2 separate regions of the Homo sapiens genome follow, and region 2 is reported to be linked to region 1. The links are microRNA targets in miRTarBase. Many come from high-throughput screens and were not tested one by one. Region 1 holds a microRNA gene; the other region holds the end of a gene's coding sequence.

The links. Region 1 holds the annotated microRNA hsa-miR-3675-3p (CAUCUCUAAGGAACUCCCCCAA, at 1,429-1,450, opposite strand). A microRNA usually pairs through its seed, bases 2 to 8, with sites in the 3' UTR of a target mRNA and lowers its output. Matches are read on the target gene's strand: a 7mer-m8 pairs with bases 2 to 8, a 7mer-A1 pairs with bases 2 to 7 and ends in A, and an 8mer does both.
Region 2: the mRNA of ZNF292 is a reported target of hsa-miR-3675-3p. Seed matches in the 3' UTR shown: 7mer-A1 at 3,554-3,560.

What each region holds. Positions count from the first base shown.
Region 1 is chr1:16,857,530-16,861,929 of GRCh38, forward strand. It overlaps MIR3675 (microRNA 3675), which reads right to left and starts at 1,492; the gene lies at 1,420-1,492. It overlaps TRG-CCC1-2 (tRNA-Gly (anticodon CCC) 1-2), which reads left to right and starts at 4,392; the gene lies at 4,392-4,400. It also overlaps the pseudogene PDE4DIPP9 and the pseudogene TRV-CAC11-2.
Region 2 is chr6:87,261,416-87,265,815 of GRCh38, forward strand. ZNF292 (zinc finger protein 292) reads left to right here. Exons shown (of 8, transcript NM_015021.3): 8 at 1-4,400. The coding sequence ends at 386. Among named protein-coding and RNA genes, the nearest start is that of SMIM8, 59 kb to the right of the region's middle.

The DNA.
Region 1 (4,400 bases):
TAGTATAGTATAGCATAGTATAGTGGTAATACTGGAATCAGACTGCCTAGCTCTGATGCTTACTACCCATGCAACCTTCTTAACCTTTCTGAGCCTTTGTCATTACCTATTAAATGAGGATGATAACAGAACCCATCTCAAAGGGTGGATATTAGGTTTAAATGAATTAATACAAGTGCTGGCCAGGTGTGGTGGCTCATGCCTGTAATCCCAACATTTTGGGAGGCTGAGGTGGGCAGAACACCCGAGGTCAGGAGTTCGAGACCAGGCTACCCAACATGGTGAAACCCTGTCTCTACTAAAAATATAAAAATTAGGTGGGCATGGTGGTGCACCCCTGTAATCCCAGCTACTCAGGAGGCTGAGGCAGGAGAATCGCTTGAACCTGGGAAGTGGAGGATGCAGTGAGCCGAGATGGTACCACTGCACCCCAGCCTGGGTGACAGAGCAAGACTCTGTCTCAAAAAAAAAAAAAAATTAGTACAAGTGCTTAGAATGGTGCCCAGCATACATTAAGCTCTCAATGCTATTTGCCATAGTTATCAGTGTTATTGACACTTTGTGTTGAAAACACAGACATTCATCTTGGTATGCGTCCTGGTTATCTACTGCTAAGTAAGAACCACTCTAAAACTTAGTGACTTCAAACAGTACTTTATTATGCTTCATGGTTCTGTGGTTTGACTGGGCTCAGCTGGGTGGCTCTCACTTAGGGTCTCTTGTTTTGGGTCTCATCAGTTGATGGCATGAGAGTTTATGTGATGGCCATGATTGCAAAATACAGTCAGCCACAGTATCACAACACAGAAGAAATTCAGACATCAGGTGGTGGTTAAAACAGAAGACATGAAAGGTCCTATCTAGACTTAGGATGAGATGAGTCTAATTATTCATTGAGTATCTGCTGTGAATCTCTGTGATGCTGGTGCTGTAAGGGATGTGAAACGCAGAACTATCTTCATTCTCACAGACCTTACGATTTATCTAGGGACATATAATTAACATATATAGAACAGTTGAAGAACAGTGGCATGGTAAATTTTTTGTTTTGTTTTGTTTTGATACAGAGTCTCACTCTGTCACCCAGGCTGGAGTGCAGTGGTGCCATCTCGGCTCACTGCAACCTCTCCCTCCCAGGTTCAAGCAATTCTCCTCCCTCAGCCTCCCAAGTAGCTGGGATTACAGGCATGTGCCACCATGCCCAGCTAGTTTTTTTGTGTGTTTTTAGTAGAGGAGGGGGTTTCACCATATTGGCCAGGCTGGTCTCGAACTTCTGACCTTGTGATCTGCCTGCCTCAGCCTCCCAAAGTGCTGGGATTACAGGCGTCAGTCACCACGCCCGGCCCATACTAAATTTTTAGTGCAATAATTTATCAGGGTAGAATTTACTCTTAAATACCTCCTATGGCTTACGTGCCAGAATTCAGTTTGGGGGAGTTCCTTAGAGATGTTCTCATAGAAATCTCTACAGAAGCCCCATAACTTATCATCCACCCTTTCCTCTTCTGTCCTGCATTAGGAAATATGATTCCCTGATTCAGGATCAGCCCCGGGAACTGTCTTACCTACGGCAAAAAATACGAGAAGGGAGAGGTGTTTGTTATCTTCTCACCCAGCATGCAAAAGATACAGTAAAATCTTTTGAGGATCTCTTAAGGAGCAATGACATTGACTACTACCTGGGACAGAGCTTCCGGGAGCAACTGGCCCGGGGAAGCCAGCTGACAGAGAGGCTCACCAGCACACTCAGCACCAGTAGGTTGGCCACAGGGCTTTGGATACTCTCAGTCACCCCACAGTTCCAGCCCCTGGTGGCCACCACATCTCCACTGCAACTTTTTAACGTAGGGTCCTGTTTCTATTTCATTTCCTGGGGCTAATACAGGATCAAGACTGCTCAATGGGGAGCATGGAGAGGAACACACAGGGCTGGAGATGCCATGGTTACAACTCTAGAAACTTCACCACTCATGGAATGTGACCTGTGGGGCAGGGGCGGCATCTCTCTGGTGCTAAGAGGGAGTAGGGGACATGACATGGAAGGGCCTTGTTATAGGAGGAAGAGCCGTGAGCTAACAATTGCAAGACGTCGAGGCGCTGAGGCCAAAGGGTCCGTGAGGAAACAGGCGCAGCTCGCGCCCCTCGGCCTACGGGAGGGAGGGCAAGGAGAGTCCTACGGTTCCTGGGAGGACGAGAAGAGCCAAGAGCCCCGACGGCCGGCGCCGGGGAAAAGGCCCCGAGGCGGGGTCCGCATCCCTGGAAGGGCGGCGTCCACCCTCCTGAGAGGCACGGGGCGCCCAGGGCTCGGACGCTCAAAGCCCGCCGGCTCCTGCAGCTTCTGGGAGCCGAAGAGTGTCAGCCGGGAGGATCCCGCACACGGCGCTTAGTTCTGGAACTGCATACCCAGGGGAGGATGCGGGAGCCCGAAGCCCGGGTATGTGTCCCCGAAGCCCGGGTGTGGGTCCCCATGGTTTTCGTGTTGGGGGTGGGCGCGGAACGCTAAGCCTGGGCCTATTGGGAGCCATAGTCTTCTTGATGGCTGGTGCTTATTGGGCTTTTTTCAGTCGAATTTCGAAATGCAGTTGAATTTCTTACTTTGGAAACGATAATAGAAATGGCTGACCTAAGATTTTCATGATGATATTTTGCCTTTTTTGGTGTATATGCAGTTTCTGTGGTGTAGTGGTTATTATGTTCGCTTCACATATGAAAGGTCTCTGGTTCGAGACTGCGTGGGAACATCGTGTTTTGTTTTGTTTTTTTGTCCCTAAATTTAGTGAGTTTAATCGAGGTTGGGAAACAAACAGAAAAGTAGTTGAACCTGTGGCTACACTTTAGACCTCCTCAATCTAGACAGATCGTTGACCAGGCTACAGTTTCCACTGGTCTGCCAGCAAGAGGCCTGCTTAATATTAGCTTTGGTTCCAGAAATTCCTTCAGGTTCTCTTCATTCTCTTCTATCGCCTGTATTTTCACAGGCTGACACTGAAAGTGGATGACATCTTAGTGCATTTCCTAAGGGTCCCGCTTGGCTTCGCTTTACTCTGGTAAGTTGCAGATCTGGCTGATTTGCAAGACAACAAAAACAAAATATTTTTTAAAAAGGTTCTAAATCTGCATCTGGAAGTCATAGAGTCAATATTCCTAAATCACATGAATTATGTGTATACATTTGCATGCATACCCCTTCCCCAAATAATCCTCAGAAAACCGGTTAAGTTTTAGCATCTGTGACTCTGAGATGCATATGAGGCCTTTGTAAATTTAGAAGTTAAGAGTAGAAAGTACAGGTTTGTATTTTAGAAGGAGATTTGGGAATAAATATAGCTCTGGTGGATATAGATCATATGTTAAGGTTTGTTGGCCAGAGCTGGTTTGTGTCTTGGGTGTTGGGCAAAGAACAGAGAACAGCCAAAGCTCTGCGAGGTCAATGTGAAGGGTGATTTCCTTGGTGGGCTCAAGTTTATGACGCAGCCTGGACCTAGCTTGGCTTCTCAGCTAGAGAAGAAGCATGATTCCATGTCACAGCTCCTGTCTTTGAAAAAGTCATAATGACTCCCAGACCCAACATATGGAGAAAACTCTGGATTTGTCTCTTCAGTTGAATGTTTCCAGAGAAAATTGAGGAAAGAAATCTCTCTACTATTTGAACTTCATCAAAAGACTAATATGCTAATATTTGACCGTCAATATTTCCTTAAACTAGTCTACTCCTTACATAGCTAATACATCAAAGCATATTAACTTAGGAAATGGGATTCTCCCAAACAATGAAACATTGACGGCAAGCGTTCTTCATCTTTTCATATCACATTTCCTTCAAATGCTTTATACATCTTCAAGCAGACAAATAATAGTATTATAATGATTACGAGACTGATCGTTACTCTTTTGCCAAAAAAACCAGCGACAAAAGACTAACTTAGTGGACCAACCTTTATTTCTTCATTTTCTCTACCTTGGTTCTGTCCTTTTATTTCCTCTTTCTTCTAATTCTGCTTCTGCTACTGATTTCCTCCCTGGATTTGAACTTTACTTACCTAAACTACCAGTTAGGTTACCTTCTTAGAACCTCTAAGGCAGCAGTTTGAGGTTGACGATGGAAGATTTAGGATTAGAAAAAAGAAACGTGAATGAATTTCTGATGTTTTATTATAGGGGTTTGTAATGCAGGTAGAAAGAAGGACCTTTTTCAGAGTTAAGAGTTTGATCCGACAAATGAGCTATTTTGATATTTATAACGTTGTCTAGTAAAAGTTTCCTGTAAAAACACATTTGGTTTGGATGTCTTTGTTAGCTTTTAGTCGACACTTGAAAAAACCGCTTGGAACGGTTTCTAAGTCTTTGTGGATACTCTTTTCTGTTATCCTCCAGGCGGTAGTTACGCAGAGGCATTGGTG
Region 2 (4,400 bases), not on the chromosome of region 1:
TGAAGTTTCTTGAGGAGTCTGCAGTGAAGCAGAAGAAAAATACTGACAAAGACCATCCGAATACTGGAAACAAAAAAGGATCCCATTCAAATTCAAGAAAAAATATTGATAAGACTGCTGTGACTAGTGGAAATCATGTATGTCCTTGTAAAGAAAGCGAAACGTTTGTACAGTTTGCCAATCCATCACAGCTTCAGTGCAGTGATAATGTAAAAATTGTTTTAGACAAGAATCTTAAAGATTGCACTGAGCTTGTCTTAAAGCAACTTCAGGAAATGAAACCTACCGTCAGTCTGAAAAAACTTGAAGTACATTCAAATGATCCAGATATGTCTGTTATGAAAGATATCAGTATAGGTAAAGCCACAGGCAGAGGTCAGTACTGATAATTAATGTAGTATAAATACATCATTTACCATTTTATTTTAAATAGGAAGCCATCAAGCATGCTAGAATTGTGAAACTTTCATTATATTTTTTTGTTGTTGACATGAATTAACCTGGCCAAAAACAAAAAAGAAAAAAAAAACATGACATTTGTCATGTAAAACTTTTTTTTATCCCTATGGGACTTGAGGAACAGAATCAGTACTTCAGTTATTGTAAATAGTGAGCTAAACCTCAAATTTCTATCACCCAGTTGCCCTTTTCATGAACTAAACAATTATCTGTGTGATTGGTATGTTTCACCAGGTCACTGCTCATGTATAACAGTACTCTTTATTTGTAGATACCTTTTTTGTATATATTTATTATTGTAAATCATGTGCTGCCACCAGCAGTCTGTAAGTCTAAACTATTAAATGACACATTTATATTTGGAATTTTAATTTTTAACTAAGCGATCAAGTTTTTTAAATTGTTCTTTTATTGTTTTAAATTAAGAACTTTTTGAACTAAAACCAGAAACTCTGCCATAGTTCATTGATTTTTACATGAAACATTTATTTACAAGATGATATCAAGATTACTTTTCACAAAATAGGCACATTATATCAACACTTTGCTCTGCTTTGTAAATTTGCCATCCAGGATTTTGGGGTGGTATTCATGTGAAATTAAAGCAGATTCTCTAGCAGTTTCCTATAGCTACAGTTTTTTTTTTTCATTGCTTCTAATTGGATATAGTTACTATGAGTCCATGAAATACAATGGAAATGTGAATAAAGAATTTACTACATTGAAGATTTTAAACATTTGGTATTAAAAAAAAATCCTTTGTGAATGTGATAGAAAACTAGTAGTGTGGAGCAGTGTAAATATTTGAGGTGGTGATTTGTGAAGTAGCCCAGTATTGCCTTAAATAAAATCACATTTCATTTCTTGTTTTATACATGTGATCTTATAAAGATTTTTTGTTTTGTTTTGTTTTCCATTTTCTGAGATTTATAGATTGGTGTATAGCTTTAAACTGTATAAAGTTTTGTGGAAAGATTTTTTTAAACATTTTTATAAATCTTAAAATTGATATCATCAAAGTGAGCCCATCTTGTGTTTATAAAATACAAGAGTCCTTAACATTTATAATTACATAGATAAAACACTTTCTATAAGGAAGTTGGATGTTTTGATTTTACTGTTTATAGATGTTAGATTGTACAGATTTGTCTGTATTTCTCACCATATCTAATGATACTTTTTTCATTAGATTGGTCTTCAAGAACAGTATTAGTTATAATTATTTTGGTTATTCAGTATATAGTTAGCTCTTACAGTTTAGCTTTATTCACCATATTTATACTGTGGATTCACAGCGAGAGGTAGAGGTTATTCCAGGAGAGTTGATGACCTTCATTTAAAGTCCAACTAAAATCAGTAGTAGAAACATAAGAAAACATCTTTGCAATATTTACTTTTGTTTCTGTTTGCCGTAAATAGTAACATTGTTTTTTTTTATTTTGTGTTTGTTATAAAACAGTTGCATTCACAATATTATTGGCCTGAGATATTGATGATATTGTGATGGTATGAAAATGTGTACATTCCCTGTGCAACATCAGATTTGCAGGAAAAATGAAGCACTTACTGAAATCGCTGGTACTCTGAATAAATAAGCATGGTCAAGGAGTGAACTATTTTCTTTTGGAAATTTCTTTTTAATTTTTATTATTAAAGTATTTTATTTTTAGGGCCTTTTGGGTTTTATTGAATAGTTCATTTCACCTGTTTAAGACTTACTACCAATAAGCATAAAACCTGACACGTTAAAATCCCTGCCCTTTGGTGAGCCCACTGTTATTTATTAAAATAAAAGTTATTTTATGGGTGATTAATACATGGGTTTTCTTTTTCCTAAATTAACAATAATTTAAATAACTGAGTAATTTTAATATTAAATTTTTGTTAACAACTGAATGTTTCCATACAGTTTTCTTAGAAATTGACCTAGCTCTTAAAGGTGGGCACTTGGCAAAACTGCCCTATATAGCACAGTAGCAAGTAGGTTTATTTCTGATCATTGTAACTATGAGCCACTGTTAAGTGAAAATGCCAATGTATTGGGGCTTTTCTTTTGCTCATTAGCTTAAGAAAATTTATAACTAGACATTTCTAATTGTTTTACATGTCATGGGGAAGAGTTTGCCAACATTTAATGAAATTTTTATATTCCAGGTAATGTATACTAAAGGTAATTATGAGAGTGGGCTTTTTAGCATGAAACAAAAAAAATCAAACTATGGTAAAAAGACATGAATTTATAGAATAGCATGTTGGTAAATTTTGATACGGAATGTAATGTCTAAGTATTAAAAAATCATAAAATATATTTTTTTCATGGTATACTTTTCCCCAGCCTATTGTCTTGAGATATCTTCTACAGCCTAAATTTGCTAAAGTTTCATCACTAAAAAGTAGGAGTTTTTCCTCTTCTGAACCCGCAAAGTTTGCATATTACAGGTCAGAATTGTATTATTCAAAATACATCACCTTAAGTGAAATGTAACAGTTTTTGAAATTTTCAACGGTGTTAAATTTAACATAGGTACATTATTATTTTAAAGGGCTAGACATATTTTTAAGGCAAATTTTTATCAAGTGAGCAGTCACAGTTGCTGTAGATAATATGAAAGTACAATAATACTATACCTAGGGACATCAGAAAGAATGCCCTATTTTTCTGGAAAAGGAGGTAGGTAGTTGGGAAAGTCTTTGTAGAAAATATGAGTTTTGAAAGATGAATGAATGCTCATTGGTTCAGGGGGACAAGGGAATTCCAGACTTGGGGGTAGAGCGTAATTGCGGTATTGCCAGTGGGCCACTTGGAAAGATAGGAAGTTGAAGAAGGTGAAGCTGAAGAAGCAGATGGGTGGTGGGATCAGGAGTGTTCTTGTATGCTGTATTAAGTCTTTATTTTGGTTTTTGAAAATTGTTATTGGATGCATGTATATTGAACAATTTAATCAGTATCAGTTTTAGAAAGATAATTGTCATGGTATAGTGGATAAATTGAGTAAGTTGGAGATTAATTAGGGGGACCTAAAATAGTCCAGGCAAAAAATGATGGGAGCCAGAAGAAAGGCTAACGAAGTTGGGGAAGAGACTAATGGATAAGAGAGATAATAAAAAGTAATGTCTAAGGCAGCCTGTTTCAGCATGTTTATTGTAGTGAGATACTAGGCAGGTGGAAGGTTATTGCTGTGATGAAATAAGTTTTCTAAATTGTGTGCTGTAGTTCTCTCTCTCTCTCTCTCTTTTTTTTTCTTTGTTTTTTTTGGAGACAGAGTCTCGCTCTGTTGCCCAGGCTGGAGTGCAGTGTTGCACGATCTCGGCTTACTGCAACTTCTGCCTCCCAAGTTCAAGTGATTCTCCTGCCTCAGCCTCCCCAGTAGCTGGGACTACAGATGCATGCTATCACACCCAGCTAATTTTGTAGTTTTGGCACAATCTCAGCTCAGTGCAACTTCCATCTCCCAGGTTCAAGTGATTCTCCTACCTCAGCCACCCAAGTAGGTGCACACCACCACACCTGGCTGATTTTATATTTTTAGTAGAGACGGTTTCACCATGTTGGCCAGGCTGGTCTTGAACTCCTGACCTCAGGTGATCACCCACCTCCACCTCCCAAAGTGCAGGTATTACAAGCATGAGCCACCACACCCAGCCTCTCTTAAATAATTTAATGCATGTTTGCATATTAAAGACAAAAGTTCTACTGTAAATATGTAAAAAGTTGAAAGGGAATTTTCCAGACTTAATTGACCCTGAGAACATTTTTCTTCTTTTAATGTTAATACTTAGTTATATCCCACTGAACTAGCATTCTAAAGAACACACTTTGGGAAATGCTGATCTCAAATGGCATTTATTCAACCAGGACTGATAATCAACGTGTACACCAATTCAATTGTATCAGCTGTTTGCAAATGGTGATTATTCTGATTGATCAATTTATATATCCC